Regions from separate parts of the Homo sapiens genome. Here all the other regions are reported to be linked to region 1. Evidence: microRNA targets listed by miRTarBase, many of them from high-throughput screens and not tested one by one. Region 1 holds a microRNA gene; each other region holds the end of a gene's coding sequence.
Evidence for each region. Region 1 holds the annotated microRNA hsa-miR-5010-5p (AGGGGGAUGGCAGAGCAAAAUU, at 1,750-1,771, opposite strand). A microRNA usually pairs through its seed, bases 2 to 8, with sites in the 3' UTR of a target mRNA and lowers its output. Matches are read on the target gene's strand: a 7mer-m8 pairs with bases 2 to 8, a 7mer-A1 pairs with bases 2 to 7 and ends in A, and an 8mer does both.

Region 1 (7,000 bases):
CAAAAAGAGAATCACAACATAAAGGAGAAAATAGAGACCCAAAGAAGTGGAGTCTGAGGTGGAACAGCCACAGAAAATACAGACTGCCCCAGTTTTTAGTATAAGCATATCCCATGCACATTTGGGAAATACTCATACTAAAAAAATTATTTGTTGTTTATGTGAAATACACCCTGTATTTTTATTTTTTGAGACCGAGTTTCACTCTTGTTGCCCAGGCTGGAGTACAATGGCGCGATCTTGGCTCAATGCAACCTCCACTTCCTGGGTTCAAGCGATTCTCCTGCCTCAGCCTCCCAAGTAGCTGAGATTCCAGGCATGCACCACCATGCCCGGCTAATGTTTTTGTATTTTTAGTAGAGACAGCGTTTCTCCATGTTGGTCAGGCTGGTCTCGAACTCCCCACCTCAGGTGATCCACCCGCCTCGGCCTCCCAAAGTGCTGGGATTACAGGAGTGAACCACCGTGCCTGGCCCCCAACCCCTCCCCTATTTTTTTTTTTTTTTTTTTGAGACAGAGTCTCGCTCTGTTGCCCAGGCTGGAGTGCAGTGGCACAATCTCAGCTCACTGCAACCCCTGCCTCCTGGGTTTAAGAGATTCTTTCCTGCCTCAGCCTCCTGAGTAGCTGGGATTACAGGCACGTGCCACCACACCTGGCTAATTTTTGTATATTTAGTAGAGACGGGGTTTTACCATGTTGGCCAGGCTGGTCTCGAATTCCTGACCTCAGGTGATTCACCTGCCTTAGCCTCCCAAAGTGCTAGGATTACAGGCATGAGCCACCGTGCCCAGCCAAACTGTACTTTTATGTGCTACATCTGGCAACGCTGGTTTGAGGTGGTCACAGCCCAGACCACACCCCCGCTCTCCCAGTCCCAGAGGCTGAACTCATGCTCTCTCCACACACAGCCATTAAGAGTCACAAGCTTCATTAAAGAAAACAAACAGAACCACCCCAAACCTGCCCATGTGAAGAAGCTGCGTGAGTGTACCGACCTCCACCCTATAGAGCCAGGAATCCCTCCGGTCCACAATGGAGCTGCCAGGGGTCCAACTCAAAGACCCCTGGCACAATGACAGAACAAAGAGGATAAAGCTGGGGTGCAGCGTGTTCTAGCCTTTCCTGCACTTAACATACATTCCAGAGCTGCTTCCACTGTTCTGAAGACAGAAGAGTTACACATCAGAGAGAAAACCAGAAACCCTAAGACCCCAGCAGCCCCTTTAAGCCAAAATCAGGAGCACTGGGGACAGCTAAAGGCAGGGAGCGGGACCTGACACCACTCACCAGGGACATCTCCCTAGAGCCTAGGGAAGGCTGAGCTGTGCTTTTCTGTGACCATTTTCCGAAACTCTGTGGCAATGCCGGTGCTGGGGTGTCCTGAGGTGAAGCTAGTGCAGGGCCAGCTCATCTTTCCTGCACAGAGCTGCAGGGCTGTGTGTGGGAGAAAAGCTGCCCTCTCACCGCAGCTAAGGACACATCCACCCCCATGCCCGCCCTGCCCCACTGCCCCTCACCAGTGTAAGCGCAGTGCGTGGAGAAAGGCCGAGAGGCCCTCCATGATCAGGAGGATGGCCACGGTCAGGGTGGCAAAGGCAGTGAAGAAGAAGAACAGCACCAAACCTCCCGCCAAGCTCTTCACGCTCAGGCCGATGTGGATCACCATGGTCCAAAGCACCTCAGACAGCTCTGGGGAATGGGAGACACAAAATCCAGTGCAGTTTGGCAAGAGGCAGCTGTAGGCCATGAATTTTGCTCTGCCATCCCCCTGCTCTAGGGTTCCCTGGATCCTGGCTTCCCACTGCCTTAGTGGGACCACCATGCAGAGCTAACCTGGCACAAGTGCTGAGCCTCCTGTCTGTACTCATTCTCCTTGGGTTCAGGAACCTGAATAATTCCAGAACCTTCATGTAATTTCCATTTGACTTAAGCCCCCCAACTGACAGTGCGCCCACAGAGGGGGAAACTAGAGTTCCGGAGCCCGGAGAGAGGTACTCACGCGCATGAGCGAGGCTGAGGGCCCAGAGCCGCAAGTAGGAGGCAGTGTTGGAGATGCAGCCCAGGCAGTACTCGATGGTGTGGATGGCCTGGTGGACCATGGTGTCCCCAAAGTCAAACTGTCGTGGGAGGAAACCAGAGAGAAGATATAAGGCTAGGAGGGGAACGTGCAGGCATTCTGAGTTGTGGCTACTTGGCGCTTTGAACCTGGGCCAGGGCAGGGGACTGCACTTCCCATGGATGGCACCTCAACTCTGGAGGGGCCAGAAGCACCCAGTGTTGAGCTCAGGTGGTGATTTCGGCAATGCCTTCCCCAAAAATCCTGCCTGACTTAGCCCTCACCTGGGACACCTCCATTCCCCTCAATACATTACATTTTAATTAACTACATCTTAATAAGATTCTTTTCAACACATTTGTTCTTCTCCCTCTGGGGCTCTGTGCTCAAGAGAGGAGTGTGTGCTGAGTTGACGGCACTCTGTTGAGAAAGTGACTGTCTGGGTCTGGGACCCTAAGGACCTGCAGGAGGGCAGGAAGGGATTTTCCCCAGAGTGCGCTTCAGGAGACAGACTCTCAACCCGGACACTGTCCTGAGAAGACTAGGCCTCTATGGCCACTTTACTTATTCTTTTTACAGCCTTTTGGGAGCAAGATAACCTTCTTTTTCTTTTGTGACTTCTAAAGAGATTACACGGTGAATTTTTTTTTCCCTACATGATTTCACCACCATGCACAGGGAAATCCTGACAAAGTTTACAAATTTCCACATGGGTTAAGGCCAAACAGCATATCTGTTTGGGTTAAGACTAAATAGCATATCTCCAGTTTCTTGTTTGTTTTCGTTTTCCTCAAGCTCCCTTTGTCCCAGTTTTCCTTTCAATACCAAGAATTATTTCCAGAATAAAGGAATGGGCTGGAACAAGCTCTTGGGAGTGAACTTTCAGGTTTGCTCCAAGCACAGTCAGGGGTGAATGTGGGCTTCTGAATTTGGTATATTCTGGAAGCCCCAGGTACTTTCCCTGGGCCTCTCTGTCAAGCTGACCAAAGACCAGGAGGCGCTCCCTTATGGGGCTTCCCCCCGCAGAGCCCAGACCAGAATCTTCTGAGCTTTCAGACACTCCTGAGGGCTCAGTGGCCTCCCCATCGGCCCCTGCCCTCAGGTCAGGGTCTATTTTTCACCGCAGTTCCTTTCAAAACCCACGTGATTCCACTCCCAAAGGACACCAGAAATGCCTTGGGAAATCACTGAGAACATGGGGATGGGAGAAAGTGGCTTGGCTGGTAAAGCCACAACAGCCCAGGCCACAGGGGTGCAGCCAGCGTGGAGGGGGCTGGCTCCACCATGCCATCTCTGGGCGAACGTCTGCTTCTCCCTCACCTCTGTCGACACCTAGCCTATTTCTGGGCTTTTCTTCCGGAACAGGCTCTTCAAGCTTCCTTACTTACCCTGAAAACTAGGGTAATCCTAGTTCCCTGAGTTCCCTAAATCCCAACACCGTGGTTAAGAGCTCTTTCCTACCACTGCTGGCTGCCGCCCCAGGGCCCGCATTGAGAGGAAGAAGTCCATGGCTCCCAGGAGTGCTGATCTCTACTCCTATGGGCTGGGAGGGCAGTGACCACTGGGCTCCCTTACAGCCAATCCCTTCAGTGTTTTTATTCTACCTCAAGTTTCTCCCACCGAATAAACTGCAGGACAGGAGAGAAGCCTCGCTTCCAGGCCTTACCCTTGCCTTCTCTCCTTCATTCCCAGCTTCCTGCAGGTGTTCTCAGGAGAAGCAAGGACTGGGTGAGAAATCCAGCTCAGCACTTATGAGTCTGCCACTCAGCACACGCCCGTATCAATCGGCCATGACCAACCATGAATCGCTGCAGAGTCCCTGTCCACATCTTCTGCCTCAGTTTCCTCTCTGCCCAGCCAGTCCTCACCCTACTGCACCCTGGCTTCCACCTTCACTCCTCCACAAAATGCCTCTACTTAGTAAGGTCACCCTAACCTCCCAGTTGTTACTTTTTTTTTTGAGACGGAGTTTCACTTGTCACCCAGGCTAGAGTGCAGTGGTGCGATCTCAGCTCACTGCAACCTCTGCCTCCCGGGTTCAAGCAATTCTCCTGCCTCAGCCTCCTCAGTAGCTGGGATTACAGGCACGCACCACCACACCCGGCTAATTTTTTAGTAAAGATGGGATTTCACCATGTTGGCCAGGCTGGTCTCAAACTCCTGACTTCAGGTGATCCACCCACCTTGGCCTCCCAAAGTGCTGGGGATTACAGGCGTGAGCCCCCGCGCCTGGCCCAGCTGTTAAAGCTAACAGATGTTCTGTGCCCTTGTCCATGCTCCTGCAGTGTCTGTCACCATAGCCTCTTCCTCCTTTTTGAAATACCTGCCATCCCTTGGTTTTCCTCCTACCTCTCTGGACAGTTCTTTTTAGTCTCCATCGAGGTTCTTCCTTTTTTTTTTCTTTTTTCAAGACAGGAGTGCAGTGGCACGATCTCAGCTCACCACAACCTCTGCCTCCCAGGAGAATCAAGTGATTCTCCTCTCTCAGCCTCCCGAGTAGCTGGGATTACAGGCACATGCCACTACCGCCCAGCTAATTTATGTATTTTTAGTAGAGACGGGGTTTCACCACGTTGGCCAGCTGGTCTCAAACTCCTGGGCTCAAGCAATCCGCCCGCCTCAGCCTCCCAAAGTGCTGGGATTACAGGCGTGAGCCACCACGCCCAGCCAAGGTTCTTCCTTAAATGCCGATGCTCTCTGAAGTTTCAGCTTCAGCCCTTGCATCTTTCTGGTGGGATTGCTACTCAGGGCTTCAAGGGTCGCCCCTAGGAGTGACTCCAAGGTGGATCTCTCCATCTCTGCCTTGCCTATTTCCAGCCAGCTGTACTCCTTCTCCTGGGGAACGACAGGCTCTCCATGCTCAACACAGTAACTGCTCTCCTCTGACCACACCGAGATCAACTTCTATTCCATCTCCCATGTCCAGCAGACTGGAGAGTCTGGGAGTCAATCTCGAATCTTCTCTTACTCCTTACCTTTATTAAGGCACTGGGACCTATAGCTTTCACTTCTTTAATATCTCATATTGGTTCCTTCCTTTCCAACTTATCCTACAGACACTTCACTTCAGGCTCGCCATTCTGTCCTGAATCACATCAGATGATGTCGAGTCTATGCCTCCTGACCTTGTCCCTCCCCAACCCAATATACCCTACAACACAGCCACTGGGGGTATTTCAATGCGCCATGGCTGTGTCACCATCAGCTTCACCGCTCTCTCTTGGATGGCTCCTTGTTGTCCAAATGAGGCAAAAACTACTATGGCTGGTTTCTGCCAACCTCTAGTCTCACCTGTCCCCAGTTCCCCACTCCTGCCTCTGCTCCAGCCAAGCTGAATACTTGCTAGTCCCCAACACGTGATGGACCTACAGGTGTTTTGCCCCTGTGAAGCTGCATATGCTGGTGGGTCTGCACCACTCCCTCTACAGGGCCTCCTGCTTGACCAGAGTAAGACAACTTCCTTAGGGAGTCTTCCAGGGTCTCCTCTTCCACTCTCACCCCAGTGTTCATCAGTTGCCCTCTTTCTGTGCTCCTATAGCATCCGGGGCACACTTCTATTACAGCACCTGTCATCCAGACTATCTCCCCACTTTGGGAGGTCTTTGAAGGCAAGCACTATATTCTTCTTGTTTCTGCAGCACTATACATAGTGCTGGACAACACGGAGGGTGAGTGAATGCATGGATGGATGGGATGAATGCACCTGGTGAGGAGACAGTGGGGAGAGGTGCCACTGACCCTTGCTGAGTGGTCACGGCCTTTGAAGATTTCCCAGACAACCACTGGCCTGGCTCTGGTGTGTAGCTGGACTGAGTTCCCGCTAGGAAGAGGTACTAATGCTTCCACTGGGCTGGAGCAAGGGCCTGCATGGGACAAATACATTTTCACAGCCAAGCAAAATGGGGAAGTTCTAGAAGTAGGCTGAATGTTTTTTTAGGAACCTGTTTGGTTTGAAATCATTAGATAAATGTCATGGGTATCTAAATTTGGCTACAGAGAACCAGACTGTATATGTGCCTGATAAAGATAAAATGTTTAGACTACTTGGGTAGCCAAGGGTAGCTGAATCCCTGAGTGAGCTGGGTGGCCAGAGACTGGGGAGGCTGAATTAGAGTCTATCTTGTTGGATGTCCAACCTCCTGGGACATGGCTACAAACGAGAACGCTGGTACACAATAGTTGGTCAGACCATTCTGACAATGTGGGTGCTCGGCTAGGAAAACATTTAAAAGGCAGTGTTGTTGGAGGTAGTGAGCCAGGGAAAGGGTTGGGCTCCTCATTAACATGGAGCACGCCCCACCCATCCCTGCCAGGTAGCTCAGCCAGGGACTGCATAGATGAGCAGTCCAGGAACACAGACACTCTTTGATGCCAGCAAAGGAGCCTCTCTAGGCTTCAGGAAGAGCAGGCCCTACCTGTGTTTACACAGAACAGCAAAGGCTTTCCCATTCCCATCCCACTGCCCTCCTAGAGAGGACCGAGAGTCAGGAAGGGAAGGGTATGGTTTGTGGGTCTAGGCATTTTAGAGAGAAGTGCTGGGGGAAGATGCAAACAGTGCAGCAAGGTGTTTTAAAAACCCAGTTTAAAGAGTGTATGTTGCTAAGTGAATTACTGCTGAGCCAGAGGGCCTTCTACTCGAGATGTGGCCTGAACAGTTAGCCAATTTGCTTTCCAGTCTCCGTTATTCTCTATGTGGCTGATATAATATGAACTCCTTTCACACAGATGGATTATTTCCTTTGGGATGCATCTGGAAGGCAAAGCCTCCTTTTGAAAGCTGTCTCCCTCTCACCTGGGTCACATGGAGGTAGAGCTGACCCCGAGAAGGGTCCACCACTTCTAAGTTGAAGCATCATCAAGCTGAGGAGGGCAGCAGGAAGAGGCTGGCTCAGACAGGGAGGAAGGGTAAGGTTTGCTCACAAGCACTAGGAGGAGCAGGGAGG
Region 2 (7,851 bases), not on the chromosome of region 1:
TGGAATCAGCCCACATCCTCCTACCAGCCTGGGGATCCTGACCCTGCCCTTCTGCCTCTCTCCCTTCATGCCTCTCACCAGAGAACTCCAAGTCCTACAAAGGACACCAGGCAGGGCCATGCAAGCTTGAGGACTGAGGTCAGATTGTCAGGAGCCTTCTGGAGATGGCTCCCAGACTACGCCCCTGTTAACGCTGTCCAGGAAGGCATCCATTTGGGGCAGTGCCTCCTACCCTGCCAGTTCTCCTGCAGCAGGCCGGCAGCTCAGCCTCTCCCTTGGCAGGTGCCCCCAGACCACAGGCCAACCCTCCCTGCAGGCCCAGCATGGAGGGAGGCTGAGGACTCACCTTGGAGAAAGGCTGCAGTCCCAGCCTCTCCCCACCCCCTTCAGAACACCAGCCCCTCAACCGTAGCTGTCAAAGTTTGTGGCCTGGCCTGATGCCCCATCTTATCCACCAGCTAAGTTTGAAGGCAGAAGGGGAAGACTGTCACTGTCACAGGCTCAGCCCGCAAGGTACAGAGCTGGCTCAACATATCCCAAGAGCCAAGCAGACTTTATTTCTGCAGCAATCTCTGCTGGTCAGGGTGCCTGCACTCCTCTACCCACTGCCCTTCATGGCTGCTGCAGTGGCCGCAGCTGTGGCCCATGGCCAGCCACACTGTCAAGGTTCAGCGATGCTGCAGTCATAGCAGAAGTTGAAGTTGGTGGGGGGTGGGGGCACAGGGGGTGGCCGCTCGGGGATGGGCACGTTCTCCAGCTCCAGCAGACGCAGCTTGGTCTCCATGGTCAGCAGCTGCTCCAGGTCCAGCCGTGTCTGCTCGCTGCCCATGGGACTGCCCAGCAAGGCACTGAGCCCATCTGTCCACAGGTAGAACTGGGGGTGGCACAGAGCCGTGAGGGTCTGCCCATCTGCCTCCCCTGCCCACCTGCCGACCTCAGCCTGGCGGACACTCACCTCCCGCTTGGAGGGGGCAATGAAGTTGAGGTACGCTTCCTCCTCCCCACGGTCATAGCTGATTGAGAAGGCCAACTCATAGAGGTCCTGGGGAAGCAAGGGAGCGGGGACACTGAGCAGGGGACAGGGTAGGCGGGGGCGGGTGGGAAGGAGCCCCTGGCCCGCTGTACTCACCTTGTTCTGCTTCCCGGAGCCCTTCTCCCGGACATGGGGGCAGTCCTTGCCTGTCAGGAGTGCCCTCATGTCGGCCACAGGGACTGCAGGAAGAAGGCTGGGCTGAGCACTGCAGCCCTGGCAGCCCCGGGGCCCAGGGCGGTCTGGGGAGAGCAGGTATCTGGCCCCCGCCCCTGCCCGCCTTACGTTGCTCGGGCAGACTCTCCAGGGTAGGCGGGCTGGCGCCCTCCTCCATGTCTCCGTACTGCAGCAGCTTGTGGTTGGGGGACAGGCAGCAGAACCACAGCTTATCTGCGTGGAGAAAGGGAAGAGGGCCAGAGTGCTGAGAGGTCCTGACACCAAGCCAGCCGCCCTCTGCCTGCCCTCTGCCTGCCCTCTGCCCCCTGCCCATGCCCATTCAGAGACCCTGGCGCCGCCGGCTGCTGATCTTGCGGAAGAGCGTCCCCTCACAGAGGCGGAGCAAGCGCTGCTGGCGGATCAGGCCCATGAGCTCTGGCTTCAGCTTCTCCCGCAGCTCCCTGATAGAGGGGTGTCACTGAGCACATCTGACCTGGGGAGTAGCCCAGGGGGCACCAAGGAAGGTAGGGCTAGGACTGAGGATCCATCCCCCCAGACTCACAGTATAGGGGGAGCCAGTGTGCCCTCCTGGTGCAGCCGTTCAGTCTGCCGCAGCCGCAGCACCTCCCCATAAGTGAGCGCATTCACCTTGGTTCGGAAGAGCTCCAGGGAAGTGGGCTTCAGGGCCAGAGTGCGGGCCAGCTGCTCCCGCACCACCTGCATGACCTGGGGCCGCCCAAGCTCAGCTCAGGGCCTAAGCTCTGTACCCAGATCAGCCCCCTGCCCTGGCCCAGGCCTCCCAGCTCCCACCCCACCCACCTTGTCGAAGTCCTCCTGTGTAGCCCGCATCTCCTTCCAGGTCTTATTCAACAGCTGGATGCCCACACAGAAGAGCTCGTGGAAGCTCTGGTCTTGGCCGAAGAACATGGGTGAGAAGTCCTGGGCTGTCTCAGAGCCTGGAGTGGGGGGGCAGGAGGGGCTCAGGGAGAAAGTGCATACAGCCCCTGGCCCTCTCTGCCCTTCCGTCCCCTGCTCTTGGCCATGCTGTGCCCAGTCCAGGCCACTCACAGGGCTCCCCAACACGGAGCAGCTCACACAGCAGCACCGTCAGCTGGATGCTGCCCCGGGCAAAGGGGCACTCGTGCTTGTCCTCGCGGCTGCTGTTCTCCAACACAAACTGGGGGCGCAGAGAATGGGGCAAGGAGTCACAGCTAAGCCCATGGGGACCCTGCCTGGGGGATGCTGCCACCCCCCCACCCTACCCTGTCACCGACCCGGCTGTACGCGCTGGGCGCGTTTCTGGAGAAGTACAACATGTTGTCCAGGGCCAGCAGACCGGGGGGCACGCGCTCCAGGTCCTGTGCTGGGTTGCTGTTCTGGGGGAAGTGGGCACAGGCAGTTCAAGAAGGGCCACGGCCGCCTGGAACAACAGCCCTGGGCTGAGGCAGGGGTGGGGAGTTGGGTAGGGGTGATACTCACAGAAAAGCCCAGTTTGCGGAACTCTCGGGCACAGAGGGAACGGCGACGGTCAGCACTTAGCCCGGCACCCGAGGACTCCCCCTCCACCTCGAAGGCAGCCTGGCGTAGGACCTGCAGCTGCTCCCGCTGCTCCTGGGGTCAGTGTTGGGTGGCGGGGGAGGGGATCAAGATTATAGATTCAAGGCCAAGCTCTAAGCCACCCCCTGCCTTGTCCTCACCAAAGACACACACCTGGCTGTAGGGGTCCAGGGGCGTCCGCATGCGCGGCTCCAGCAGCCCCAGCATGAGAGCCTGCAGTACGTACAGGTGATGAGCCATCTCGTCGCCCATTGGTGCTGCACTGTGGATGATGTTCTGCAGGACAGCCAGTCCCTGGTGTAAGCGAGGGCTCACGGGGAGGGAGGGGCAGAGAGGTCCCCCTGGCCCACCACTTCCTACCTTATAGATGAACTGGCGAAGGTTCCTCTGCCAAAGATAGTCAAGCATGTGCTGAGGGGGTAGAAAGAAAGGGGGCTTAGGCTGGGCGCGGTGGCTCACGCCTGTAATCCCAGCACTTTGGGAGGCCAAGGCGGGCGGATCACGAGGTCAGGAGATGGAGGCCAACCTGGCTAACACAGTGAAACCCCGTCTCTACTTAAAAAAAAAAAAAAAAAAAAAAAAATCAGCTGGGCGTGGTGGCGGGAGCCTGTAGTCCCAGCTACTCGGGAGGCTGAGGCAGGAGAATGGTGTGAACCCGGGAGGCAGAGCTTGCAGTGAGCCAAGATCGCACCACTGCACTCCAGCCTGGGCGACAGAGCAAGACTCCATCTCAAAAAAAAAAAAAAGGGGGGCTTAGAGGATTTTGCTTCAGGGTGGGGCAGCGCCCACCGGGTGCTGCCCCCATCTAGCCACCGATCGACACTCACCTTGCGTTCCACAGGGCTGGCCCCCTGCAGCAAGGCTGTCAGCAGGGCCATGGCCTTGGTTTGCAGCTGCTGGTTCATCCTATGGCAAGAAGAGGGCTCAGTGGAACATTCAGGCTCCAGCCCTGCTCCCTGCATCTGGACCCCAGCCCCAGAGGCTTACACCTGTAGGTGCACCAGCAGCCTATCCAGGGGCACCTCGCTCTTGACCAGCTGGCCCAGGGCTGGGCTGCTCAAGGTCACACTCTCCAGCAGCCCAAGGGCCAGGGGAGGCACGGAGGCATCCATGAGGTTCATGTTCACGTAGCACACCACCTGTAAGGGGCGGGGGTGTCACCACCTCACCCCCATGGAAGACCGGGTCTACCACTGCCCCACTGCTCCACTGCCCCCACCCGCTGCCCTAGGAAAGCCCACCCACCTTCCTCACAAAGGGGATGCTCAGAGTCTCCCAGGACACCACGCCGTGCTCCATGAGCTCTGAGAAGGCCCTCAGGCTGAGGGCCAGCACCTCTCCTAGGCTGGAGGGGGGACATCTGGGGCTGAGCAGGACCACCCCAGGACCAGAAAGACCCACCATCTCCCCCAGCCCACACATCCCTGTGCTCACTCGTCCCCATCTTCAATGATGGTGCCTAGTATCTGGAGCCCATTACGGCTGATGACCTCCCTGGCAAAGATCATGTCCGAGGCCAGCGGAACAAGGCGCCTCAGGGCTTCCCGGCGCCCTTCAGGACTGTTACTCTGCAGCCCACCCAAGAGCTGCTCAGCCTCAAGGTCCTGGCAGGAACGGAGCAGGAGCAGAGGTGAAGAGGCTGGGCATGGTAAGGGTGGGACCTGGAAGTGTGCGGCCCCGGGCGTCAACTAGGTGGCGCAAGGCAGGGCTGGGGCGGGGGCCTCCGGGGCGGGGGGCCTCTGGACCTGGAGCAAAGGGGCAGGGATGGGGAAGGCGGGACGGGAGGGGCATTACTGGGGCCGTGCTGAGGCACAGGATGCTGCCATTCTTGATCTCCGCGCGGTTCTGGAGAAGACAGCAGAAAAGGCAGCGAGGTCAGGGAGGGCTCCGAGGACTGATCAACTGGGGTGTCGGTGAGGGCGGCTGGGGGTGAATAACAGATCGCGCTCCGGTAGTGGGATGAAGAGCCAGAGTTATCGGGGCCAGGTGGGTTAGAGGGGTCGGAAGGCCGAGCTTGGGGCTGGGGAGAGGGGACTCACATTCTCGGTGATGTATCTCCGGTGCCCATCCGCAAACTGCAGGGCGTAACGCTCAGAGTGCGTCAGGCTCCACCTGAGGGGCACGAGGCTCAGCGAGGCCGGCAGGGGGCGCCGCCCCTCCTGCCCTCCCGCCCTCCGCAGGCCCTGGCCCGGCAGCACTCACGCGTCGCACACCTCCTTCAGCACAGCGGCCAGGGGCTTCGCCTGCAAGTGGAGTGGTCATTCTCGCGGCCTGGGCAGGGAGGGATGGGGAGGAGCCTGGGGGGAGGGGTGGGGCGGGCTGCCCCGAGGGCCAGGGGGCTACCGGGAGGTGGGGCAGTGGGGCAGATGGAGGCGGGACCAGCCGGGTGACCTGGTCCAGCTGGATGAGCTGCGGGATGGCGTCACGCATCTTGATGGCAATCTTCACCACGTTCCGCGGAGGCGCCATGGTCCAGCTGGGACGTGGGCGCCTGCACTTTCCGGAGACCGTGCACCTGCGGCCAAGGGTGCACCTGGCCTGGGGCCCCTGGGGACGAGGAGGTCCTCCCTTTCCGAGACCTGACCTCGGTGTCCCGCACTCGCGGCCCAGACTGCTGCTCCTGGCCATGCAACGCGGCCTTCCCAAGGGAGCCGAGGTTAGTTCCGGGTTGGAGTCTGGGGGTAGGAAGGTAGGACGGCTCCGCCTGCCCCGCCCCGCCGAGGCGGCCCCGCCCCACACCAAGGTGCGGCAGGTGGGGGCGGGGAGGGCAGGCTGCCGGAGGCCGCCCCACCCCTAGTTCCAGCAAGGTGACCCACCCAATCACACTGCCAGTCCAGCACAGTCCCAAGGAGGGTCCCCAAAGAACCACATCAGAGCTAGCCTTAGGCATGGTTTTTATTCACTTGAACACTGTACAAATATTACAATTTCCTTTTGCTGCAAAAAGTATAAAAATAATCTTTATATAGGAATCCATTCGTTACTGTAAATCTTTCTAAATCTCTGCAAATGGCTCTAAATGAGGGTAAATGAAAAAGCCGAAATGAAGAGAGGGTTATGGGGCAGCAGGAGGTGGGGCCAATCATCAGGGCTGGACCACCCAGACTCCTCCCCAGAGACCTCTGTTCCTTCTTGGTAGCCGCCCCCACCACCTGCAGGTTCTAGGGCTAAAGGCCCAGCAGAAGTGGGCACGTGAGAGGGCCAGGAGGAGCTGGAGGGTCAGGGGGTGGGGGATAGCGAAGGAAGCTAGAAGTGGTGCTGGCATGTGCCCAGTTCCACCCCACCCTTCCCTCCTAGGGGAAGGAGCTGGCAGAAGCAAGACACTGAGGCTGGCAGGAACAAGACACTGCCCCCTATGGGGGGTAATGGCAGCTCCTCGGTTCTGTGCCACTGGGTGGCAGCCGAGCCTGGGCTGGCGAAGGCCGCAGAAAGGGAGAAGCAAACACTTTGGCTCCACGGTGATGGGGGCTGAGTCCTGTTCCCCTGCTCTGCGAGCACAGAAGTGCCAGCACAGGAGCGGGAGCTGTGGCCAGAACTGTGCGGTGAGGGGAGGCCGGAGAAGCCAGGCGTCTGTGGCTCTCAAGCTCTGTAGGGGTCGGGTGGGAGAGGTCCCCAGGCAACCCCCAGGTCAGACAGTCTGGGTCCCAGCCACACAGGGCATGTCCCTGTCAGTCAGAGGTTGAGAACAGGCACATCAAAGAGGTCACAGACACCTTCACTCTCGTCCAGGTTGTAGATATAATCGTGGTCTCCCGGGGGTGGAGAAAGACGAAGCAGAGGGGCAAACACTGCAGAGAGCACTAGTCTCAGGCCCTGGGCCAGGGCTCCCCTAGCAGCAGCCCAACCCCTGCCCACACCCACTCCCACCTTCCAGGGCCACCCACCTTCTGAGGACATCAACTCCTCCAGCAGCTCCGAGCTCATGCACTCTGGGAATGGAGGGAGCTCAGTTACTAACATTCCAGCTCCCACCTCTCCACCCACCAAAGCCCAGGAAAGGGAACCCCACCTGCCCATCAGGAACTTCACCCTTTGCCCCAGTTACCATAAGCGCCACAACAAGGTCCTCAAAAGGGCAAGAAAACAGCCATAGGACCCAATGAGCTGTGTCCCTTACCCCTAGCCTCAGGGAGGAATGCAGCAGCCTACCTCGTGTGGGATCAAAGATTTCTGACAGCTCTTTGGGGAGTTCCAAAACTGAAAAACAAGAAAGCCATGCTCAGGGCACAGAGGTCCAGCCTGGCCCCACTACAGCCCCCTGGCTTCCTCGGATCCTATACCACCCACCCTGAGGCTCCACACAGCTAAGGAGATGTAGGTCCTGCCTAGGCCAAGCTGGCACTGTCTGTTGGCCTCACTTGCTAAACCTGAATTCCTCAGTGCTGAGCCCAGGGTACCAAAGGCCCCCTGCAAGCGATTGGTACAGCTTTTCTAACTCGGAAAGGCCACAGAAGCCTCTTTCTGGGCTCAGCATGCACCCCCTGTCTGACAGAAGGTACCCCATCTGTCCCACCCTTGCTGAGCACCTGCTCTGTGCAAGACTGAGACCAGACCCTGGGTCAGGTCACCAGGCAGAGGTGGTGGCGCTACAGGGTGATGACTCCACTACAAACCTCTGGCCAGGAGGACACAGGGGAAGCAGAAGAAAATGCAACCAGAGAGGACTATGAGGGATTTCACATGCCAGGCTCAGGAGTTCAGATCTTATCTGGTGGCCCTCAAGGAGCCATTAAAGGTACTTTTGCAAACAGAGAAATGCCACATTTTTCTGTCAGGCCTGCATTTCAGAAAGATTAGTCTGTCAGTCAGGGTAAAGAGAAAGATGCTGAAGAATCCAGGACAGAGGTGGCCAGGGGTCATCCTGAGTGCTGAGGATACCAGAGGATAGGAGGGGACATCTGGGACAGACCTCAGTTAGCTGGCATGGGGTGGGCAGCAGAAGGAGGAGGGATAAGGAACTAGAACTAGAGTGAGAGCCAAGGGTCAGGCCTGGATAACTAGGGCTGACGGCTGGGTGCGCAGAGGTGGAAAGCAAGCTTCGGGAGGAAACTAAGTTCAGTTGAGGACATGCAGGAATAAAGTGTCCATTGGATGTACACAGGACGGCA
Region 3 (7,851 bases), not on the chromosome of region 1:
CTTTGTGACCCCAGGCTGCGGCCGCAAGGTGCGCAGTAGTGGGCTGGGCCGGGGCACCAGTCGGGTTTGGTTTTGCTCCGCCCGGCCGAGCTGCAGGGACCGCACGGTGCCCGGGTCTCCCGCCGCAGAGCAGCCGCTGGCCCGGGCCGGGGGAGCCGGCGCTGACCACCGCGCGCTGTCCCCGCAGGCAGCCGGCCTGCCGCCATGGCCGACCACCTGATGCTCGCCGAGGGCTACCGCCTGGTGCAGAGGCCGCCGTCCGCCGCGGCCGCCCATGGCCCTCATGCGCTCCGGACTCTGCCGCCGTACGCGGGCCCGGGCCTGGACAGTGGGCTGAGGCCGCGGGGGGCTCCGCTGGGGCCGCCGCCGCCCCGCCAACCCGGGGCCCTGGCGTACGGGGCCTTCGGGCCGCCGTCCTCCTTCCAGCCCTTTCCGGCCGTGCCTCCGCCGGCCGCGGGCATCGCGCACCTGCAGCCTGTGGCGACGCCGTACCCCGGCCGCGCGGCCGCGCCCCCCAACGCTCCGGGAGGCCCCCCGGGCCCGCAGCCGGCGCCAAGCGCCGCAGCCCCGCCGCCGCCCGCGCACGCCCTGGGCGGCATGGACGCCGAACTCATCGACGAGGAGGCGCTGACGTCGCTGGAGCTGGAGCTCGGGCTGCACCGCGTGCGCGAGCTGCCCGAGCTCTTCCTGGGCCAGAGCGAGTTCGACTGCTTCTCGGACTTGGGGTCCGCGCCGCCCGCCGGCTCCGTGAGCTGCTGAGGGCGGCCGGCGCCCGCCCGGCGTGCCGGAGAGGAGAAAGGGCCCGACTGCCCGCCGGACCCTGCACCCAGCGACTGGGCCCCGCGCGCGCCCTCCGCGAGGGTGGAGGCGGCGGCTGTGTGCGCAGGGCCCGGCACCGGACTGGGACCCTGGCGTCCCTCCAGGCCTTGCCTCCTGCGGGAGGACAGTTTGGCTTCACTTCTCTGACCCCAGCCTCGGCCGTAAAGTGAAAGAGACCGGACCAGCTTCAGCTTTCGGACTCTGGTTCTTGGATCGTGTCCTCTCCCCCTCGCCGCCCTCTTCCCCCAATCTGAGCCATTGCAGGCCTCTGCCTGCTGCCCCCTCTCTCCTCGGGATCGGGTCCCCAGAGCCACCATCTCCTGAGCCTCCCACCCCGCTGCCTGGGCCCTGTGGTTGCTGGGCCTCCCACCTCAAGGAGGGGAAGGTTGTACAGCCCGAACCCGTGGAGCAATGCCCTGTCTGGCCTCCAAAACCAAAATAAAACTGGGTCACTTTACAGTCTTGCCGTTTTCATTTCCTTATCACCCCGAGCCCTGACTATATTTAGCTTCCAAAGTCCCAAGGTTGCTGAAGACACTGGATGGCATGGGGGCCACAGTCCCCAGCAGTGCCCAGGAGAGGAAACCGACAGTTTCTTTCAAAAATATCTCGTGGGTTGTGCAATTGTTATGTCACAACCTGGAGGGCAGAGGCTGCCACTGGGTGGTGGGGTAACCCACTGGGCTTCCCAGCTCCTAGGGTAGGGTGGGGGGAGCTTGGTGCTCTGCCAGAGAGGAGCTGGGTGGCACCGAGTTCAGACAGCCTAGCTTTGGACCCTGACTCTCTCCTTTGCCCAAGACACCATCCGTTCTGATTTTTGAGGCGGTTTCCCAGAGGGAGATGGTCCCCGTCTCCTCAGGTAGTTACGCTGCCTTTAGCACAGTGCCAAATACCTGGGCAGTTCTCAGTAAGTGACGGCAATTATTATTCTACAAATTGGTGCTGATTTTATTCCAGGCCCTGTGTCAACCTGGTGCATGTTCTCATGGAATCACAGCCCAGGTGGGAGGAGGTGGGTGATAGGCCTGAAAACAAACTAATCTTGCTGCAAGGAAGACTGTGATGAGTTCTAGAAAACAGTGCTAAGCAGCACTTTGGGAGGCCGAGACGGGCAGATCACGAGGTCAACAGATCGAGACCATCCTGGCTAATATGGTGAAACCCCGTCTCTACTAAAAATATAAAAATTAGCTGGGCATGGTGGTGCGCGCCTATAGTCCCAGCTACTCGGGAGGCTGAGGCAGGAGAATCGCTTGAACCCAGGAGGCAGAAGTTGCAGTGAGCCGAGATCATGCCACTGCACTCCAGCCTGGCAACAGAGCGAGACTCCTCAAGAAAAAAGAAAATAGTTCTGGGGGGGATTGTACAGCCAGGACAATAGACCGGCCAAGCGGGCACACCCAGAGAAGGGAGCAGTTTCAGCTATTAATAGTTGAGGTTGGGGTCAGTTCAGGCTTCAGGGAAGCGGTGACATTTGACGTGATGAACAGAGCCTTGAGTGATGAATATGTTTTTAGGAGAGGAGCCTGTTTCAAGGCAGGAAGGCACACAAGTACGATGAATGTTTGGGGAAGGTGTGGGGTGTCTAGAAGGTACAAGAAAGGTCGAATGGCTTTACGACAACTTCGTGAGGCAAGCACAGTCCTCATTCTACACATGAGGGTTGTGGAGTGTGCCCAGGCCTGGCAGGATTTGGCCTCAGAGTCCTGAGCACCAGCGTGAGTTCCTGGCCACCCTCTGCAGTTCACTCTGGAAAAATCCCTAGGTGCTTCTGAGATGTGGGAGAAAAGCTGGGAAAGAGATTGAAGTCAGGGAGGAGGCCGGGTCAGAGACGCTGCGGTGGTGGGGCATTCTCTAGGAGAGCATGGATTCCAGGGACACTGGAGGGGAACACCAGGCTGAGACCTTCTGTCCCCAGCAGCTGGGCTTGACTCTCAAGCCAGGCTTTTTTGTGGATGTGACCCTCCACCAACCTGTGAGTTCTCCCAGGACCTACTGTGCTCTGAAGCTACCAGGATGGAATGTGGCTGGTGACAGGAGGTGTTTGGCAAATGAATAAAGGTCTCCCTAAGATCATGGGATTTCTGGGACAGGATGAAGAGAGAAAGGAAGAGAGCCTTCTGGGAAGGGACTGGCCTGAGCTCTGGGCTCAGAGGGGCTGGCATTTGCCCACCCCACCGCCCCGCTGCTTTGCCCAGAACCCCAGGCCAGAGACAGAAACCACAGGGCTGAATTAGTACAGGAGGGTTTGACCCTGAGCTGAACACTTCCCTGATTCTCTTCTCTCTCCCCTCAGTTTCCACACCAGTAAAATGGGGCTAATATCCCTGCCCTGCTACATTACAAAGCAATAACCCTCACAATTAGTAAGGAACAAATTCAGAGATGGGTTGATAAGCAGTTGGCAAACTCTGAAGTGCTCTCCATATGGAAGGGATTACAACGAAAACCCCAACACCTGCCTCTTTCCAGAGTTAAGGGGGAAGCGGAGGAGAGAGTCCAGCTGCTGAGCTCTTCCCTCCTGCATCCCTCCAAAAGGGACTGCTGACAAGTTGGACAGCAGACAGATGGACAGGGGAGAAGATGAGGCTGGGGCATCCCACAGCCTGGATCCCCAAATCCCTGATACTGTTTGGAGGCTTCTGACCCTACCATCCCCTACCAGGGGAAGAGAGAGTACGTGTAGAGACAGTGAGGAGAGCAATGGGCTTGTCGTCTGACAGCCTCAGGGTCCAGTTCAGAAGCAACTCTTACTAGCTGCCTGACCTCAAGGAAGCCACCACACCTCCCGCATCTTGGCTCTCCTAAGATAATCACACGAGCTTCCGTGGTGCCAACAGGGTGTCGCTCATGTCTCCCCCAGGGCTGCCTCCTAAAGCAACCTGTTGCCAAAGGGTGCTGTGGATTTCTCTCTTATACCTAGGCTGGATCTTGGGGGTCAGAAATCAGGCTTCCTCAGGGTTGAGAACTGAGTCATGACACAAGTCATTTTCCCATCCTTTTGTTGTTGTTGTTTTGTTTTGTTTTCCTATTCATATGAAAGTTTCCAGGCTGATGTTCTTTATTTTGAATTATCTTTTGGTTGACTGGATTTTATCAACAAGCTGTCATTTGTGTGTGTGGTTTTTTTTCCTTCAAGAAAAGTATAATTTCCCTTGAACTCATCTCTACAATGGGAATGCTAATAGTACCACCCTGCAGAACTGCTGTGGAGATTAAACAAGTTAGTGCAGGTAAAGTATTGAGAGCAGTGTGGTTTGTAGTAAGTGCTGTTATCCCTGATAACAGCACTTTTTGGAGATGCCTTTGTATTAGAATATTAGAAAGGCTGTGTTTTAACCAGCTAGAAAGGGGTTACTCCAACAAGCAACACTGTTACAGGTGGGGTTCCCTGGGAAGCAGACTCTGAGATGACATTCAGCTAGCAAGAGGTGTATTAGGGAGTGCCTTCAGGATCAGCAGCTGCAGAAGGGAGGGGACAGAAGGAGCTAAGAAGCTACAAAGCAGGCCCAGCAGGAGCCTCAGCCAGCCCCGCTGGGAGCTCTGGAGCTAGAAGGGCCCTTCAGAGTTGGCCTGAGTTGGACCATTTTAATCCTTTATACTCCTGCCTCCATCAGTCACTGGATGTGAGCCACCCAGAGAAGTGGTGTGACTGTGGGCAAGGCAGCTGTCCCCAGCTAAGCTCATCCCTGGAGGAGCTGCCAGGGTACGGCTGTCTACCAACAGCAGCACTCCTGGGGGCTAGAGCAATGATTCCTTTTCTTCTCTTTTCTTTTGTTCTTTTTTTTTTTTTTTTTTTTGAGACAGAGTCTCACTCTGTCGCCCAGGCTGGAGTGCAGTGGCGCGATCTCTGCTTACTGCAACCTCTGCCTTCCGGGTTCAAGTGATTCTCTTGCCTCAGCCTCCTGCATAGCTGGGGTTACAGGTATGTGCCACCGGACCCAGCTAACTTTTGTATTTTTAGTAGAGATGGGGTTTCACCATGTTGTCCAGTCTGGTCTCCAACTTCTGGCCTCAAGTGATCTGCCTGCCTTGGCCTCCCAACGTGCTGGGATTACAGGATGCACCACCGTGCCCAGACTAGGGCAATGATTTCATAGAAGGGGGCTCTGGGCGGCACATCACAGTGTTCACCACAAGCACTGGGGTGGGGACTCTGGTTCCCAACAGCAAGGGACTCTTTAAATTTATGCCCTGGGTATCTCTTTTGCCTCACCTTAGTCTCAGACCTGACCAGCACCTTCCCCATTACAGAACAAAAACAACAAAATGTAAATGTATCAACCTTACAGGTTTGATGTGATGAGACTCTATACAAAATACCCCACACATGGTAGATTCTCAATAACTGAGCGCTGCCATCACTATCATAATTGTCATTGTCATCATCATCGTCATTGTCATCATCATTATCATCATCGTCATTGTCATCATCATCGTCATCACTCCAGGTCAGATAAGTGTTCAACAGTCATTTATCGAATAAATTAATGATCAGTCTGATCCTAGCCTTTTCCCAGGCAGCTTAAGTGGTTTAGCTGATTACTAAGTAATCCTCTTGAATTCCTTAATCCATCGTGGCCTAACTCTTCATGCCACCCTGTTGTTAGAAGTGCTGGGACAAGATTAGTGCCAACTATAAGACCAAATAAGTGCTTACTGAGTGGCTGCTGCGTGCAGGCATGGTGGGAACTGACGGGGAGTGCCCAGTGGCACTCTTTCTTTTCCAGTCTCTCTTTAATCACCGCCCAACCCTGTAAATAGCACTGCTAGGTAGTTTATCCCCATTCCAGAGGTCAGAAAACTGGGGCACTCAGAGAATTACTCCAAGTCACACCTCAGTAAGAGGTGAGGTGAGCATGTCCACCCCACCATATCCAGGGCCTGTCCCCTTCCCAGGCTGGATCTGGCCAAGGACCTGAGCCTGGGTGGGATAAGAGCAGAGTCCCAGAGCTGATCTGCCACTCTGAGGCTGTGAATTGCAGAGGAAGTTACTGGGCCTCCTTAGGCTTTGATTCCTTCTTCCATCCAATGGAGAGAATAATTCCAACATCTGAAGAATGTGTGTGCAAAGATTCACATGAGGCTGGGTTTCTGAGAGCACACTGCAAGCAGTGCAGTGCTGCCTGGCCAAAGTGGGTTTGTGGCTGAACAACCATGGCCCTTATCCTGTAGCTGGTCTGGGAAGAGGACACCTGCATATACTTTGGGGCTTGAGATCTGGCCAGCCTGGAGCATGCAACGTAGAGTCTCATGTTGAGGGCTCTAAGGAGGCACTGCTGAGCAGCTCAGCGTCTGGACGGCCCTGAGGGCTGGTGCTGATAAAAGAGTGGGATGTGGGTCAGCTTGGGGAGGACACACAGGTTGGGGGACTGGGCATGAGTAAAGGCCCAGGGCCCAAAGTGTGCCCTGATGGATAGAAGAAATAAAGGAAGCTACTCTGAGTGCAGTCCCCTCGTCTGTCAAATAGAGACACGATAAGCTTCTTGTGAGAATGAACCAAGGTGATGTTAAGTGCCTGACCCGTGAGCTGCTCAGGTGGAGCTGTGGCTGGGAAATATGACCACAGGGACGAGAAGGACAGAGCCCTGCCCCACCCAGCCTCCAAGTGCCTTCCCACCCTCAACTCCAGCCACCCCAGGCTCCTCATGCACGATGTTCCTCGTGCCGCCAAGCCTCTGTTCCTTTGCCTGTGCCATTTCCTCAGCCTGAAATGCCCTCCATAGGGCCTTTTCCACATCCAAAGGCCTATTACCTTGTGTGTCAGAGTCGCTGAGGGGTCTTTCTCCACCAGACTGTAAGGCTCACCATCGCCCCCTGTGTGGCTCAGAGGGCATTAGGAAGTGCTGGGCCAGGCATGGTGGCTCACACCTAGAATACCAGCACTTTGGGAGGCCGAGGCAGGAGGATCACTTGAGTCCAGGAAAATTTTAATACATTTTAAACTTAAAATTTCATTTTTTATTTATGAGGTGTAGTTAACTCTAAGGTTGGCAAAACAAATTTTCAAAATAATTTTTTAAAAATAAAAATAGTCTGGGCGTGGTGGCTCATGCCTATAATCCCAGCACTTTGGGAGGTCGAGGCAGGTGGACCATTTGAGGTCAGGAGTTCGAGACCAGCCTGGCCAACGTGGTGAAACCCCATCTTTACTAAAAATACAAAATTAACTGGGTGTGGTGGTGGGTGCCGGTAATCCCAGCTACTTGGGAGGCTGAGGCAGGAGAATCACTTGAACCCAGGAGGCAAAGGTTGCAGTGAGCTGAGATTGCACCATTGCACTCAAGCCTGGGCAACAAGAGCGAAACTCTGTCTTAAAATAATAAAAATAAATAAATAATAAAATAAAATAAAATATTATAATCCTATTTATATAAAAAAGAGATGTGTATTATGTATATGTATGTAACGTATGTGTAGTATAATGGAATCGTGTGTGTTTGAAAAGTCTTGTGTGGGGGTGGTCTGACTTTTTACTCTGTGCTTTCTACATTGTTTGAAAATTATTTTGTCTTAAGCGTATATTTATTTTGACCAAAAACATGTGTTTGTTTGAAACAAAACGATTGGCTCACACCCTTTCTTGGGCTAGGGCAGTCTGCTGTCTGATGTGCCCGTTTTATGGCAAAGCCCTAAGCCTGAGCTCCTCTGTGGGAAGAGGCATACAAATGAGCCCCGCTGGAGACCACCCTCTAATGGGCTGTGGAGGACTCCCTGCTCCATCCCTGGCCACACTTCTGCTTCACGGAGATACCTGGACTTGATGTTCGTGGATATCTACCCTCCGTGACTCTACAAATGAGAACAATCCCCAGACAGGTGCGGTGGCTCACACCTGTAATCCCAGAACTTTGGGAGGCTGAGGTGGATGGATTACTTGAGGTTAGGAGTTCGTGACCAGCCTGGCCAGCGTGGTGAAACCCCGTCTCTACTAAAAATATAAAAATTAGCCAGGCATGGTGGCGGGCGCCTGTAATCCCAGCTACTCGGGAGGCTGAGGCAGTAGAATCGCTTGAACCCAGAAGGCAGAGG
Region 4 (7,851 bases), not on the chromosome of region 1:
CTCTTCATACTTAATGGAGACAATCTATACTATGGCCTGAGTAACGCCCAAGTCACTGGGACCAGCTCTGTCTACAGACAGCTTATGGGATGGGCATTGACATCCACAATGCTTTGGTTGTATCCTAGCCTTCCCTCTTATTGCTGTGTAACATCAGAGACATTCCATTCCCGATCTCTTCCTTGTTTCCAGTTTCATCATTGTACAACAGAGCTAATGGCACCAACTCCTGCAGAGTGGTGAGGATTTCATGAGTTAATATAAACACTGAATAAATATTAGAACATCCTTTTCCCTCATTCATCTCCCTCTCCCAGTATTTCTCACACACACACACACACACACACACACACACACACACACACACACACATTATGATGACCAGTATATTGGGTACTCAGTACTTCAGGTAAAACAGCAAAGATATGCTGCTGTTGATGATGGTGATGTGTGTGTGCATATGTGTGTTTGTGTTTTTACGGGGGTAGTTAATTTATCTTCTCATTGCCTTTCCTTGGTGCTGTCTCTCGGGCTCACTTTGCATCTTTTACCTGGGCTTAGGGCCTATGTGGGAGCAAAGATGCTCATTGTCATGGTCCAATAAAGAGAAACAGATGGGCTCCAGTGAGCCCCTGAGTAGATCGTCTGTCCTTTTGAAAACGGCGGATTGACCAAATTTATTGGATTTAGAATTGTCGCTATTTTAAATGTTATCACCTCCCATTTTTAAGCTATCAAAAGAGGGTAGAGCTATCCTTATTAATGTTTTTATATTTTAATTATTAATTCTTTCAAACATCTGGTTCCTTTGCTAGGTGCGTCCTGGCTGAGAGTTGGAGCTCTCCAGCAACATGCCTGAGCAGAGTAACGATTACCGGGTGGCCGTGTTTGGGGCTGGCGGTGTTGGCAAGAGCTCCCTGGTGTTGAGGTTTGTGAAAGGCACATTCCGGGAGAGCTACATCCCGACGGTGGAAGACACCTACCGGCAAGTGATCAGCTGTGACAAGAGCATATGCACATTGCAGATCACCGACACGACGGGGAGCCACCAGTTCCCGGCCATGCAGCGGCTGTCCATCTCCAAAGGGCACGCCTTCATCCTGGTGTACTCCATTACCAGCCGACAGTCCTTGGAGGAGCTCAAGCCCATCTACGAACAAATCTGCGAGATCAAAGGGGACGTGGAGAGCATCCCCATCATGCTGGTGGGGAACAAGTGTGATGAGAGCCCCAGCCGCGAGGTGCAGAGCAGCGAGGCGGAGGCCTTGGCCCGCACATGGAAGTGTGCCTTCATGGAGACCTCAGCCAAGCTCAACCATAACGTGAAGGAGCTTTTCCAGGAGCTGCTCAACCTGGAGAAGCGCAGGACCGTGAGTCTCCAGATCGACGGGAAAAAGAGCAAGCAGCAGAAAAGGAAAGAGAAGCTCAAAGGCAAGTGCGTGATCATGTGAAGGCCCTTCCTGCGGGAGGAGCAGCTGTGTGTCCCCGGCACCTCACTCCCCCAAAATGACACCCACCGTCGTCAGGGTAGCATGTATAATGCCCACGTGTTAAACATTGCATTTAATCGAGATGCGTCCTATTGTCCTTAAGAGGGCGTTTCACACCACCAACAGTAAGCCACCCACTCTGGAGTCACAGAATCTGCCAGGCGGTTCAAGTGAAAACCAACACACTCAGCATCCCTGGGAACTGAGAGGTGCCAGCAATTGCTGAAGGTGGCGATGAACACCCGAAGGTGGGAGGGAGGACTGGTACCCACAAAGCAACATGTACCGAGAGGACTAAATGTCATCTACGTGCATGTGAGAGCGTGTTAACCTAGAGTTACCTGCACCAACCCCAGACAGAAGCCAATCACATCTTTGGGGGAGGGGAGGGGCAGGAAGAGGTGAGAAGATCAGATGGTCCAAAGTGGACCACACTTGGTCCATTTTACACTTTTTTAAAGGGGATTAAAAAACACAGCCTCTCCCCCAAAGGGTGTCCGTTCTTAATTCCCACCTGGCCTGTTAGGAGCCTTGCTACCCTGAGGGGATGTGTTCACCTTACCTAGACCTAGTTAGGAAGTATCATTTTAAGCTATTAGAGTATTTATCTTCATGTGCAGGGATAAGTGCACTAACAGTGTGCTGCTCTGTCGGAAGTTCTTCAGTTTTTAAGTGAGGATATCGTGACAGTATTAAAACATCGCAATAATGTTCCTGTGTGTTATACATCGAGGGTTTTAGAAATGTGATTTTCTTCTTTTGACCTGTGAGGAGTATAACTTCTTTCAGCCCTCAGATTTTAAATACAAGCAAATAAACTCACTATTTTTAGACGTTTTTTTCCTCCAAGGTGGTTTTCTTCTCTTAAATAACTCGATCTGTACCCAGCTGGGTAGCAGCCAGCAAAGGCCATCAGACAACCAGAAGCACATCCATTTTTGTAGTGTCACAAACATGTATATGCCACACTTTGCACCTTAATGAAATACTTTGAAACAGAAGTTATTCACTGTGTTTTTGATGATCTATCTGTATTGGAAATATGTTCCTGGAAAATGCATTTAAATAATAGTAAATTCTCTTGCATGTTCCATTATACGTGTCTTCTAAGAGCTGTTCAATACAGTATTCACTCTAGAAACAATTATCTTTTTCTCTTAATGATTTTGTGTGCATCTTTAATCTTTCAAGCCAAATTACAGCTATTTCAGGTTTCCTGTGTTAGCTTGGGGATAGGATGGTGGCTGGAGACAGGCAGGCTTCTCTGCCCTGGGAAGAGCCCACTCAGCTTAATTGCTCTGCCATCGTAGAGCCTGGTTGGACTTGGCTTCCTGAAAACTCCCACTGATAGTGCCTGTTAGATCTCCTGTTTGTTTCAGTTGGCAGAACATTTACTGGCCCCAACTGTGGCATCATCCTCTCAGCAGTCTTCCTGTCACCCGCCTGGCAGGCAGAAGGAGCTGCAGTCCCACGTGGGCCTGCCTGGGGGGGTGGGGGCTGCATGGCTGTTGGGTGGCAGTGTCAGCACAGGGAGGGCTTAAGTTGGGGATGTTTGACCAGGCCACCTCCTGCAACTGCTGTTTCTCCTGTCCCTCCTATGCAGGGCTTGCAGCAGCAGCAGTGTGGCCATCTCCATCCCCCAAAGCACACTTGCTCTCTCAATATGTCCTAGTTTTCTTCAGCCTTTTCTGGTTCAGTTCCCTTGTCCTGATCTCATCCTCTCTGGTCTCCCAATAACTCACCCTTGGGATGTGTTTAGAGCGTGGGAGGTGCCTTTGAGAACTGCTTGACTCCATGATCTCCTAGAACAAAACCGCCCTGACTTTACAGGGGGAACACTCATGCTGAGCTGAGAAAGCAGAGAAGTGGCGTGGGAGCCAGCTGGGGGTGAAGAGCATTTGGGCCAGTCCCGTGGCCCCCTTCAGATTCCTCAAGCAGGATTGTTCTGTTCTAAAAAGCTGTTGCACAGCATTCGCAATGAGATCTTTAGTTGGCGGATTTTCTGGAACATTTGTTTTTCAACTTGTCCCGACATTTTTTTTCTGTTTCTATTCTGAGAGAGAGATGATCAAGTTTTAATTTGGGTATAGGTTAAATGGAAGAAGAAACAGAACTTCATGGCCAAAGTAGACCTATAGATTTTGATTGGGTTCTTTGTTAACAGTAGAATGCGATCTTTGCCACTGACTGTAGTATTAATAAGGTTTTAATGTGAGATATTCCTGCAAACCATCCCATTTCTACTGATTGTAAGTCAGAATTTCTTTTATCCCTTTCAAATCAGTTTCTACATGTTTAAGTGTTCAGGGCTTCATCAGCATGAGAAGTTTGTAATTACTGAAAGTCTGATTTCATTCAGGACACATTTTTTCCTTCATATTTTTTCTGTGAATTTATAGGCTAGGAAGGCTATTGAAGCCTCAATTATGGGTCTTCATTTTGAGATCGTTTTCTATGAGCTGAACTGAGGATATCAATGGTTATCTCAAAATCGTCTTTTAGGAGATCCCCAATTGACTCAGAGTTTGAGGAGTTAGTATCACAGAATTAGATTTTTTTAAAGCATTTGTACGTTTCCATTCCCAAATATGTAGCTGTGGTTCTTGAAAACACATCCTACATTGCATATGGGCATAGCAGTTTTTGACCCAGGCAGAATAAGTTAATATTTAATTAAATATTGCTTTGAAGATGGCGCTCTGGGCATGAGCATGGGGCTCCATGACTTCCCTTCTATCCCCATGAGCCCCTCCTCCATCCAGCGACAAGCCATGGGCATGCATACAATGCAGCAAGACCAACACAAGAGCAATATTGAATTGTTCATTCTATCTAAAATTACATGTATATAAAATATATAATTTATCTTCCTGCATTTTTGAAGTATAAAGTCATAAATTGTACATATCTGTAAGCTAGTATATTTGTTTCACTGTTTGTAATATTTAAGAAATGCTCATTCTTTGTAGAACAAAAATGTATTAAATATTTTAAAAATTGCTCTGTGATACTTAATTTTTTTCCCCAAAATTTGTAATGTGTTGCTTCTACATAAGTTCTCTGGAAATATCTACAACTAATAGGACACATGTAAATCCTTGAAGACACATCCTGGAATTCATACCCCACAAGGACAGTGTGTATACAAAGTATTTGCAGAGCATGACTTTTATATGTGTGGGATATCAATGTGTATATTTATATTTAAAGTGTATTTATTGTTACAAGTCTATTCTCTATTATATTTTATTTACTCTGCGGTTATAAAAATCACCCTTGCATACAAGTTTCTAGTTGCCAGTGATGTTCTGGAAATAATGGGAGATATTACAATAAAGCTACAGTTATGACACCCTGGCTGGAAGGTGGTGCTATTTCTTAAGGGGTTAGCTGGTCTAGGATGACCTTGACTTGGTGACCCCTCAGCGGCTGTTATGTGCTTATGACCACAATAGGAGGATATCAGGCTCTGTGCAGAACTAGCAATAGGCAACAATAACTCACCCTGGGGTGTCCCGTGAAACTTTCCCATTGCTCCCTGTCTTTGGGTGGAAATGAAGCAGAAGATCCAGACAGGTTAAGGTGAGAGAGGGAAGGAGTAGGGCAGGGCCTTACTTGTGTCAAAATAGAAGAAGTGAAGACAAACTCCCTTCTCTTTTTTTTTAATCCTGCTTTCCTCCACAACCCCAGGCTATTAAATTGTAAACCAAATATAAAATTCTAAGCCCCCCAACTGACTGATGGATGCTTCCCTTGGCCAAGGGCATTCCAAAGTTAACTCAAAAACTAGTTCAGGCCATGATGGGAAGTGGGGATCAGACATGCCTCATTATATCCTACTCCTCTTGGAATTCAGGCACAACTGACCAGCATTAACATTAAAACATCTGAAGAATGATAGACTGTTTGGGTCTGGTAGGAGGAATTTCCTTCTATTGATTCTTTCTGCATAATAGGAACCTTGGTTTCCATAAGCCCTTATCTTAATCCAGACATTCCCTTCTACTGATTCCAGTCTTTAGATAATAATCTAACTCTTTCAACCAATTGCCAATTAGAAAATTCTTGAATCTACCTATGACCTGGAAGCCCCCACTTTGAGTTATCCCACCTTTCTGGACCAAACCAGTGTACATCTTACATGTATTGATTGATGTCTTATGTCTTGCTAAAATGTATAAAATGAAGCTGTAGCCAGATCACCTTGGGCACATGTTCTCAGGATCTCCTGGGGTTGTGTCTAGGATCATCAGTCACTCATATTAGGCTCAGAATAAATGTCTTCAAAAATTTTATAGAGTGATTCTTTTCATTGACAAAATGATGGTGTTTTAAGTCTGGGACAAGCCAATGCCTGAGACATGGAGTTGCAGCAGAGCAAGAGGTTTAATTGTAGGGTCACCCAGTGAGGAGATAGATAGGAGGAAACCTCAAATCCATCTCCCAGAGGGCTGTGGGGCTAGTGATTTTAAGGGTTTTGGAGTGGGCCACAGCATGAAGTGTGGAAATCATTGATTGGTCAAAGAGTTTGGGGTGAAGTCGTGGGATGAGGATGAAGAAGCTGCAATCTCATGCTGATTCCGTCCTTCTGTGGGGTCTTCAAATTGGGTGCTGGAATTTGGGGGCTGAAAAAATCTTAAGTGATCCTTAAACAAAAGCCTTATGATTCTAATGTCAGAGGTCCTGTCTATGGGAACAACAGGGATGCAGATCAATTCTTAAACCATCTTATAACCTTAATGCCAGAAATCTTATCTACAGGAACGAAGAGATACAAATGGTCAGGATCTAGTGCTACGTGACTTTTAGCAACAAGGAAGTGGGCCAAAGTGCAGCCTGATTAATGTTTAATTATTATTCTATTTCTATCCAGAACCTGGCATGCCATTCTTGTCAACCCTGTGGGGACAGTTTCTGCCCTAGCATTGTTGCTGAGTACTGCTTCTGTTTGGTCTTTATTTCTCTTTTTCCACACTAATTGTGAAATAAAGCTTAATTTTGATGATGCAGGAAAAATCCATCAAACACTAAAAACGAAATCCTCACTCTGCCACGGAATGGCTAAGTGACACTGGGGAGGTTCTTGCCCTCTTAGTGCTTCTGCAAAATGGGAATGATTAACGTCTGCAGGGTGGTGGCCCTGAGGGTTAATTTAATGATAAGCACAAAGCACAGAGCTGGCTTGTCATATATTGAGCTTTCAGAGGAAATATACAAAAATCTGCTGACTATGTAGCATTCTATCTGGAAGGTTGGCGGCAAAGTGAAAATCAAACTACCCAAGTACAAAAACCACCAGAAACTTCCGCTTCTTCCAGCCTCTTTATCAACAGCTTTCCAGGTCTTGCTGTCTGCATGCCCCTCCCTACTCCAACCCTCCGCCCAGCTTCAGGTCATTATTGCAACATTAGTCAGGGCTCCAATTTACGGAGATAATGACAATCAGCCGACCCTATTAGGTATCATTAAAGGGTATTCTGGTGCTTATCAAACTTTAATGTGCAAATGAAGTACTTCAGGGTCTTGTGATTCCATAGCCTCTGAGGCAGCAGGGCCGAGTGGGGCCCGGGAGTCTGCATTTCTATCAGGCTCCTAGGTGATGTCCCTGCTTCTGGTCTGAGACCACACTTTGACATGCAAGGCTGTAATCTACTTGCTCTTTAGTTTTGTTGCACATGAGAATCACTTGGTAAAGGAGTTTTGCAAACTATTGATAACCAGACCGCCTACCCCTCACAGAAACTGTGTGTTAGTAGGTAATTTTGATATGGAATTGAATTTAAGAATCACTGCTGTTAGCCAAGTTTAGTTGGGAATGCCTGCCAGCTCCCTAAGTCTTGGGGCGGGATGGAGATGGGAGTAGGCTTTGTTAAATCAAGTTCCTCTTTAGTGACTTTTTTCAGTCAGTGGTATTGAGGGTCTCGGCTTTCTCTATGTAGAACATTTTCCAAGGTTAGCATTGAGAGAAAATTGTAATTCAGGTATAGAGCATCTGCCCACATGCTCTACCCTGGGGAGTTCCATCAGGGCTACGTGGGCAGTGATGTCCCTGGTTGTGGGTCTGAGCCCCAGCAGCCATCTGGAGCACCCCTCCTTGCCCTCCTGATCTAAGCATGGCACACTCTCTATTCTTAACAACTCCTCAATCTTCTTCAATGCCTGCAAATACTGAAGACAGGTGCCCCTAAAACCATCTTTGCAAAAATTATGACAGTGAGAAAAATCTGACATAGGAAAATTATGAGTGAAAGAAATCTGACCTAAGAGACTCCATCTTGCTTCTAACCTCCAAGCTGCCCTTATTTATTCCTGGGCTTAGGCCAAACTAAATTTGGGATGAATTTATAGTTTAACTTTGAAA

Region 2: miRTarBase lists E2F4 as a target of hsa-miR-5010-5p. Seed matches in the 3' UTR shown: 8mer at 5,971-5,978.
Region 3: the mRNA of CITED4 is a reported target of hsa-miR-5010-5p. Seed matches in the 3' UTR shown: 7mer-A1 at 1,061-1,067.
Region 4: miRTarBase lists DIRAS2 as a target of hsa-miR-5010-5p. Seed matches in the 3' UTR shown: 7mer-A1 at 1,498-1,504, 7mer-A1 at 1,973-1,979 and 8mer at 3,125-3,132.

The regions. Positions count from the first base shown.
Region 1 is chr17:42,508,979-42,515,978 of GRCh38, reverse strand. MIR5010 (microRNA 5010) reads right to left here and starts at 1,791; the gene lies at 1,672-1,791. It overlaps ATP6V0A1 (ATPase H+ transporting V0 subunit a1), which reads right to left. Exons shown (of 22, transcript NM_001130021.3): 20 at 2,001-2,118; 21 at 1,519-1,690.
Region 2 is chr16:67,196,688-67,204,538 of GRCh38, reverse strand. E2F4 (E2F transcription factor 4) reads right to left here. Exons shown (of 10, transcript NM_001950.4): 8 at 6,893-6,940; 9 at 6,628-6,672; 10 at 5,621-6,531. The coding sequence ends at 6,416. It overlaps ELMO3 (engulfment and cell motility 3), which reads right to left and starts at 5,408. Exons shown (of 20, transcript NM_024712.5): 1 at 5,135-5,408; 2 at 4,946-4,986; 3 at 4,783-4,855; 4 at 4,538-4,588; 5 at 4,178-4,347; 6 at 3,989-4,088; 7 at 3,731-3,882; 8 at 3,571-3,649; 9 at 3,104-3,154; 10 at 2,897-3,019; 11 at 2,666-2,797; 12 at 2,461-2,562; 13 at 2,255-2,363; 14 at 2,006-2,142; 6 more. The coding sequence starts at 5,212. The coding sequence ends at 662. MIR328 (microRNA 328) reads left to right here and starts at 2,144; the gene lies at 2,144-2,218. RefSeq lists a silencer at 6,013-6,072.
Region 3 is chr1:40,854,481-40,862,331 of GRCh38, reverse strand. CITED4 (Cbp/p300 interacting transactivator with Glu/Asp rich carboxy-terminal domain 4) reads left to right here. Exons shown (of 1, transcript NM_133467.3): 1 at 1-1,278. The coding sequence starts at 205. The coding sequence ends at 759. It overlaps LOC105378676 (a long non-coding RNA gene), which reads left to right and starts at 4,838. Exons shown (of 3, transcript XR_947239.2): 1 at 4,838-5,270. RefSeq lists a silencer at 103-182.
Region 4 is chr9:90,606,828-90,614,678 of GRCh38, reverse strand. It overlaps DIRAS2 (DIRAS family GTPase 2), which reads left to right. Exons shown (of 2, transcript NM_017594.5): 2 at 816-4,847. The coding sequence starts at 852. The coding sequence ends at 1,451. Among named protein-coding and RNA genes, the nearest start is that of LINC01501, 28 kb to the right of the region's middle. RefSeq lists enhancers at 702-1,202, 1,203-1,703.